Linked DNA regions of Homo sapiens: regions 1 and 2 are each linked to region 3. Evidence: fine-mapped expression QTL. A gene starts in region 3. Each other region holds a variant in brackets. All regions are shown on one strand. Distances are from middle to middle. Region 1 overlaps AIDA (axin interactor, dorsalization associated). Region 2 overlaps MIA3 (MIA SH3 domain ER export factor 3). Region 3 holds the start of HHIPL2 (HHIP like 2).

Region 1 (2,770 bases), 140 kb before region 3:
AAATACTGTTTAATTCTTCTATTACAATACAAAGGGAAGATACTCCTAGTAACTGATACAGTTTTCAGCTTTTTTGTTGGTGTTTTATACAAATGTAAAGGTTGATTTTTTCCCCCATTTTATTATTAAAATATTACTATATGTTTTTGTTTCTGATATGACTGACACATGGTCTTTTTTGTCACCTGTTCCCCTTTCCCATTCTTAGTATCTAATACAATATTATGTTAGTGATTAATTGATATTTATTGAGTTGAATTAACCATTTACTAACAATGAGCTATCATGTACGAAGTTTAGAAAGGATGTTCTTATAATTTTTTTTTTAAAAATAGTGCTTTTTAGTGAGATCTGAAATGCAAGGATTCTAGTCGGCTAAATAGTGGTAGAGAATGAGTTATATAATAATGTAGGTTTATACTTGTACTTTAAATTTTTCTATGTAATTTCGTGATTTTAATTCTGACAACAGACTCTGAAGGAAATGTTCTCATTGTAGAATTGAGGAAACTGAGATTCAGAGTGGCTATGTGAATGTTGAAGTCTTGGCATAATTCTTGGGCTAGGATTTGATTTCAAACCTTCTAACTTTCATCTTCTGCCACTTCTGCCTTGCTTATCAAACTTCTGCTATACAGTTGATTTATTCCTTGAATAAGCCTGACTAGTTTCTGCCTCAGAGCCTTTGTTGTTGCTCCAGGCTGTTCGCTAATCCCTGGAAAGCCCTTTCCCTACAGCTGCCTGCATATGGTTCCTCTCATCCTAGGTCATGGCTCAAATGTCTTCTAATAATTTGGTTTTGAAAGGCTTACCCTGTCTACCTTAGCTAAAGTTTTCCCTCTTCTCTACTTAATCCATTTACACACTCATCCTGTTTGTGTCCTTTATAACACTAATCACAGTTACATTCTTACTTGTTGGCTTATTGCTTTTTCTGATGAGAGTCTGAGATCCATATATGAGGGCAAAGACTCTCTGTCTTTATCACTGTTCTCTTCAGCATCTAAATCAGTGATTGGAACATTATAGGCACTCAATCCATATTTGTTGAGAAGAAGAAAGAAAGAGAATGAATGAGAATCTAGACACCAGCCTC[A/T]GAGTTCTTTCTCACAGGAGGGTTTGGTATAGATTACATACATAAGAATGAATATACTGTGGATTATGTATATAAGATTATATATATAAGAAGGTATAGATTATATGTATGAAGAGTATATATTATAAGATTATATACATATAAACGTATAGATTATAATATAAGAATAAGATGAAGGAATGTTGGAGTAAGTCACGGAATTGCAACATGCAGTCTCTGGATTTCCTCCTTTGGGATGCCAATATGCCACACCCATTTTAGCTCTAAACTGCAGGACTCCAAAATTAAAGATTGAGTAAACTGAGTACAAAATCATGGAAGCCTTTTAGGTCTTCCAGTTTATGCCATGAATTCACTTTAATGTAATCACGAGTAGTTACTGGGCACCCATAAGGCCAGAAATGAAACTGAATTACATACATACCCTTCAGAGGTAGCTAGAATTGTAAGATGCCTCTCTTTAAGTTTACATGCCAGAATGTAATCATTGAAATACAGATTGGTCACAGCCAGAACACAGGAGGTGGTCCCATATTGTTTGAAGTCTTCTCTTCAGGATAAATCCCTCTTTGTGAATGTGTGTATATAAATATGGAAGTACATGTGTATATATACAATCATTTGTCACTTAATGACAGGGATGCACTCAAGGAAATACATCCTTAGGTGATTTTGTTGTGTGAGCATCATAGAGTGCACTTACACAAACCTAGATGGTATAGCCTATATGGTATAGCCTATTGCTCCTAGGCTACAAACCTCTACAACCTGTTACTGTACTGAATACTGTAGGCAATTGTAACACAGTGGTAAGTTTTTATGTATGTAACCTATCTGAACATAGTAGAAAAAGGATAGTAAAAGTACATATAAAAGATAATAAAATGGTATGCCTTTATAGGGTACTTACTATGAATGGAGCTTGCAGGACTGAAAGTTGCTCTGGGTGAGTCAGTGAGTGAGTGATAAGTGGATATGAAGGCCTAGGACATTATTGTACACTACCGTAGACTTTATAAACACTGTACAATTAGGCTAAACTAAATTTATTGTAAAAATTATCCTGTCTTTAATAATAAATTAACCTTAGTTTACTGTATATAAACTTTATTAACTTTAACTTTTTAAAACTTTTGACTCTTTTGTAATATCATTTAGCTTAAAATACAAACACTTTGTACAGCTGTACAAATATATATACGTGTGTGTGTGTGTATATATATGTGTGTGTGTGTGTATATATATATACATATATATACATATATATGTATATATATGTGTGTGTGTGTATGTGTGTATATATATATATATATATATATATATATATATATATATACACACACACACATACATATTTTCTTTTTTCTTGAGACAGCTTTTGAGACAGTCTGGCTCTGTTGACCAGGCTGGAGTGCAGTGGCATGATCTCCGCTCGCTGCAACCTCCATCTCCTGGGTTCAAGCAATTCTCATGACTCAGCCTCTGGAGTAGCTGGAATTACAGGCGTGTGCCACCAGGCCTGGCTAATTTTTTTGTATTTTTAGTAGAGATGGGGTTTCACTGTGTTGGCCAGGCTGGTCTCAAACTCCTGTCTGCCAGGGATCCATCTGCCTCAGCCTCCCAAAGTGCTGGGATTACAGGTGTGAACCAATGCGCCAGCCACAATAATATTTT
Region 2 (2,770 bases), 110 kb before region 3:
GGGGAGCATTCTCCACCACTCACAGGGGATGGGCCAAAAGAGCCATTCTGGCTCAGAGGACCTAAAGATGACAGCATCTTGTTAGCATTTTAAGACAGCCTTTTTTTCTTTATTCAGTTCTTGGGATTATTCCTAGGGTACCATAACCATTACACACAGAAACAAAAAGTCACTTATATACATTTTACATCAAAAAACAGATTGTTGCCCTTTACAAGGTAGCTCCCTTACCTCTCCGTGGAGGGTTTTGTGTATTTGGTTTTCCTGGCATTGGTTTTACAATCACAGGTTCTTCTTGCAGCATTGCCATCTTTTGTGTTAATTCTAATAATCTTGAATATAGAGAAAGAATATTTAAGAAAGAGTTAAATATGAAATAGAAACCAATTCCTTAAGAGAACACGCGCTGAAAATATAGCCATCAAAATCCACATACTTGTGTCTCAAATTGGCAGCTTCCCTTTTCTCTTCAGCTATAGCTCTTTCTGCAGCACGAGCTTTGAGCTATTGAAGAAAAATATCCAAATTCAGTTGTGGGAGACTATGCACAAAATAAGGGAAAGAAAAAAAGAAATCTTACCCAGTTTTCATGAGCTTTCTTCTCATGGGTAGCGATCTGAAAAAGATAATACATCACAAAATATGCATACAGATTCATTATAATAGCCTCTATTAGTTATCAAAGAATTCCGGGCACTATATAGTAGGGCACTAGAATTATTACCTGGTTTTTAAATGACCGCTCTGTCTTCTGTAATTCATCCTCCATTTCTTCAATTCTCCGCCTAAGAATTACACTTGGCTTTATCATTTAAAGCACAACTGAATAAAAACCCAAACAATCTGACTATGTTAACCGTTACCCTAACAACTGTACCCTAATAGAGCTTATCCAGAAATATAAAGCATATTTTACATGGTTGGTTATAACAAAAGTACAATATGATGAAAACTAATGATACATAATTTCCTTTAACAGCTGGAGATTGAGTTGATATATTACAATTCCTTTAACTGTTCCTAAATATGTTCTCAAATAATCCTATTATTAATATCTTCCACTATAAACCTTTTTTCATCCTTTAATTACATCATAAAAATTTTCCCAAAGTTAGGACTACTGGGTCTATCAAATGGCAAAATCACTTTAATGGCTTTTGATACATCATATAACAAACTGCTCCCACCCCCTCCAACCCCCAGAACTGTTTGCACGAATCAAGTTCCCTTACAGTTTTGCCAGCACTGGGTATTTGTTAATATTTTTCCATTTGTTAACTTAAAATTTAGTTTTTCTTTTGTGTGAATTGATGTATTCATGTCCTCTAACCACTTATTTATGCTTTTGTGCTAATAAAAAAAGCCAACACTAGTTTCATTAGCCACTGATACCCTCTTTAGGAGGTGAACTTACTTGTAAGTTTTTACTTCCTCTGCAGCCGAAACTGCCTTTTCATCTGCAGCTGACAGCCTGTGCTCTCTTTCTTGCCGTTCATACTCTTCTTGACTCAGTTTCCTAAGATAAAACTGGTTGTCAATGAAAGTGTTTCTCTTTTCCTCCTGGCATTC[T/C]GTCTGAATACTCCAATAAAATCTCACTTCCTATCCTATTCTTAAAAATGCATAGATTATACAAAGTCACAGGAAGGAAATAAAACTGTCCTTTAGGATAAAAATCCAACTGTGGCCTGTTGATACATCACCTGCATTTTCTAACGTCTCATAATTCTCTCCTCACTAGTAAATGAAACAAATGTGAAAAAACACTATGTGTCAAAGACTGTTGGGTTGAAATGATGCTCACTTTTCTTCAATGTAGAAAGCCAGGACTGATCAACCTAACACAGTTAAGCTTATTAGGATGATGCAGGAGATAATTCTCTTATTTCTAACCATGGAAAGACCACTAATTAATTTTCTTATGGGCTGTTTCTCAATCCAAGGCTGGTACCATGATAAAGACAGCCAATGAAAGAGCTTTTTAGAACATGTCCTTAACTGTACAATTAACCCCAGAACATTTTCACACTTCAGATATGGAGCTCCCCTACCTATTTCAATGGAATCATGATAAAGCAGCGAGACAAATCCGAGTACTGGCAATGTCTGTTGAACAGAAAAAGAATCCAAACTGTCCTGTAATCAGGGTGCTATGTACTGGAAATTGGTTTTAACCTGATAACCTTCAAGCTCAAGAGGTTAGCCAACTATAACACAGATTGTAAAGGCAGCAACATTTAATGGTTTAAAAGTGCTACTTGTAGTTACCCTTGTACTTCTTTACTCATAGTTCTGATGCAAAAGATACTTGCAAATTTTCTATAAATTGGAAACAAAAATAGAGGAGCTATAGTAAAAAGGGTTATTAACACCAAAGAGAAAAAAGTTTATGTATTCTTTTACAACTGCTCATTCAATAAATACTTCAGCAAATATTTTATGAGTGGTTATACTAATTACCTTGTAAGAGACTAAGATAAAGGTATGGCTATGGTAAGTACCACCTCTGCACTAATGGAGCTCACAGCTGAATGTGTAAAAGGTGCATATAAGAACAGAACAATCCCTCTCTGACTCTGGCTTAGGAAGGGATGTGGAAAAAACAAGTCTTGAAGAAGGATTCAAGAGAATTTTGTTTCCAATAATGGATGAGTTAGTCTGCAAACACTGAAAATAAGAACATATGGACAAAAATAGAAAGAATGTGCTCGAAGGCATCAGAAAGCTAATAAGGCAGTGAAGAAAATCCAGTAGGAAAAAACACAGAATTATA
Region 3 (2,770 bases):
TGCTTCCTGAGGAAATTGTCCCAAACAGTCCTTGTTGATTCCTTGTTTTCACTGGACCACCTCCCTCTTCTATGGTCTGAATGTGTCCCTCCCTACCTCAGATTCATAGATTGGAATGTAATCGCCAATGTGATAGTATTAAGAAGTGGAGCCTTTGGGAGGTGATTAGGTCATGAAGGCAGAGGCCTCATGGATAGGATTAGGGTCTTTATAAAAGGTCTTGAAGGAGTGGATTTGAACCATCCTGTCCCACCATGGGAGCAACAAGTCACCATCAATGAGGAACAGAGCCCTCGTCGGACACTGAACCTGTTGGCATCTCTTATTTTTTTTTATTTTTAGAGATGGTCTTGCTCTGTTGCCCAGGCTGGAGTGCAGTGGCGTGATCATAGCTGACTGCAGCCTCAAACTCCTGGGCTCAAGCAATCCTCCTGACTCAGCTTCCCAAGTAGCTGGAACTACAGGTGTGCACCACCATGGCTGGTTAATTTTCTTTTTATATTTGTAGAGACGGGGTCTCACAGCATTGCCCAGTTTGGTCTCAACCTCCTGGGCTCAAGTAATCCTCCTGCCTCAGGCTCCCGCAGTGCTGGGATTACATGCATGAACCACCATGCCCAGCCCCTACTGCCATCTTGATCTTGGACTTCCCAGCCTCCAGAACTGTGACCAATACATTTCTATTATTTATAATTACAGTCTGTGGTGTTTTGTTACAGCAGCATGGACTAAGATTCCCCTTCTTTTCCTTCACTGTGTCCTCCTTCCTCTCCTTGGTCCTTACTGTGGATGCAAGATTCATGAAATGCCCTCTCTTCCTACCCTTCCAAATATACACCTTGCCAGATCCCAGGAGCTATACAGCACACCCTGCCTCCTGCCATGGCCCCTCCATATCTCCCACCGCCTTGGGGCCCTTCAGCACTGTAGAAACGCTTGAAGCTTTCCTTCTACAGAGTGTGAAGTCTGGGATGATGTAATATATGGTGCTCTCATGGTGACTCTGGGCCTCTCAGCCTGTGAAGAAACATAAAAAAGTGTGAATTTCCGGGCATCCCCACAGACAGCAGGAATTCTTTGCAGTTTTAAGGAATCGAGCACCTCTGCCATTGACACCACTACACTTTTGGCTAAGCAAAGGTGTGCCCCCATAACACTAGCAGCACTAGAGTGGGGCTTCATGTTTAGATGGGTTGGGGGAGGGGGGAAGGGACACCTCCCACTGCTTTCAAAGGGAGCCCACAGAAGGGACACTGCTCAGAAACTACCTCAGCAGGGAGGGGCGGGGAAGAGGAGGAAGGAGGAGAAAACAGGGTGGAGTAGGGGGAGGAAGAGAGGGAGGACCTTGGGCAGAGCAGGGAAGCCAACCTGAGCAAACACAGCAGCCCGAGTGTTCCCAAGGCCAAAATGCTGAGAACGTCCACTCCTAATCTGTGTGGTGGTCTGCATTGCCGGGCCCCCTGGCTCTCTTCTGGCATTCTCTGCCTCTGCCTCATATTCTTGTTGGGCCAGGTGGGCTTGCTGCAGGGACACCCCCAGTGCCTGGATTACGGGCCCCCTTTCCAGCCCCCTCTGCACCTTGAGTTTTGCTCTGACTATGAGTCCTTCGGCTGCTGTGATCAGCACAAGGACCGCCGCATCGCTGCCCGGTACTGGGACATCATGGAATATTTTGATCTGAAGAGACATGAGCTGTGTGGAGATTACATTAAAGACATCCTTTGCCAGGTAGTGAAAAGTGCCTTCCAGCCCCAGGGGTTTGGGTGCTGGGCTGCATGGTGTGGGTCCTGAGCGGAGGGTGCTTTGGGAGCCCAGCCCTTTAGAAGTTCATGTGCCGGGTGCCTCATCTTGGAGCTGCCGGCTTTGGACACGCACACTGACATGAGTGTGTGCTGAATTTGGTCTCCATGGGTTCCCCAAAGCTCTCCCTCTGGGATTCTGCTGGCCCTGATTCTTCTCCAGGCTCCAGGAGAATGAGAGGGACACTCTTCCTGGAGCTCTCAGAGCAGCCATTATTTGCCACACTCCCTCTGTGGTGCATGGCAAATAATTATTTGCATCCTCTGCGGTGCTCAGAGAGCTAGGCACTTAAACCCGTGGAATTTACCGAGCGCGTTAAGGGAGGGAGTGGTGGCATCTGCTGGGGTCCAGTCCTTTTCATCTGGGTGATTTGTGCCAGGGCATCTCTGGCGTCACCCTGGCGGTGGCAGGGGTTGGAGACTCTCTCCAGAGTTCTGTCTGCCCAGCACTCCAGAGCTGGAAGAGAGAGATGCAAGCTGCTGAGTAGCAGTGACTCACAGAGTTTCTGCTTCTCCTGGTTGCCCAACAGCCAAAATCCACATGCCTGGGAGGCATCGTTTTGATTGAGCTCAGCCTGAAAACAAGACGGGTGTAGGCTGCACACACAGACTTTGTAGGAAGAGGGTGTTTGGGGGTTAATGGGGAGAGGTCAGCATTTGGAAAGCTGATAAAAGAGGCTGCCTGGGGAGGACCCCTCTAATGATGTTGGGGAGGAGAGGCAAGAAGTCCAGGCAGCCTTTTGAACTGAGACCCCCTGGGCTTGTCAGCACAATGACTTGGCTATCCACAGGCATCTGTTCATGACTCCTGGCGCCACTGTTCCTGAGCCTGCAGACCACTGTAACTCCCACATAGGGCGTGAAGTGGTTAACCGAGCTTCCCAGAGTCCAGGAGAGAATTACAGCTGAGCCTGGCCCAGAAAGTCAGCCACCTGGGTGGCACCGCCTGGGGCTGTCCTCTTAGACACCAC

The links. PIP is the estimated chance that this variant, and not a neighbour inherited with it, causes the effect.
Region 1: its variant is fine-mapped to the expression of HHIPL2 in whole blood (TOPMed, PIP 0.94).
Region 2: its variant is fine-mapped to the expression of HHIPL2 in whole blood (TOPMed, PIP above 0.99).

Annotation. Positions count from the first base shown.
Region 1 is chr1:222,689,144-222,691,913 of GRCh38, reverse strand. The region is part of intron 4 of AIDA (axin interactor, dorsalization associated); the gene reads left to right. Among named protein-coding and RNA genes, the nearest start is that of AIDA, 22 kb to the left of the region's middle. The variant A/T (reference allele first, on the strand shown) is at 1,097.
Region 2 is chr1:222,657,468-222,660,237 of GRCh38, reverse strand. MIA3 (MIA SH3 domain ER export factor 3) reads right to left here. Exons shown (of 28, transcript NM_198551.4): 19 at 1,415-1,516; 20 at 725-785; 21 at 581-616; 22 at 437-504; 23 at 232-332; 24 at 1-61. Among named protein-coding and RNA genes, the nearest start is that of MIA3, 41 kb to the right of the region's middle. The variant T/C (reference allele first, on the strand shown) is at 1,570.
Region 3 is chr1:222,546,682-222,549,451 of GRCh38, reverse strand. It overlaps HHIPL2 (HHIP like 2), which reads left to right and starts at 1,348. Exons shown (of 9, transcript NM_024746.4): 1 at 1,348-1,728. The coding sequence starts at 1,408.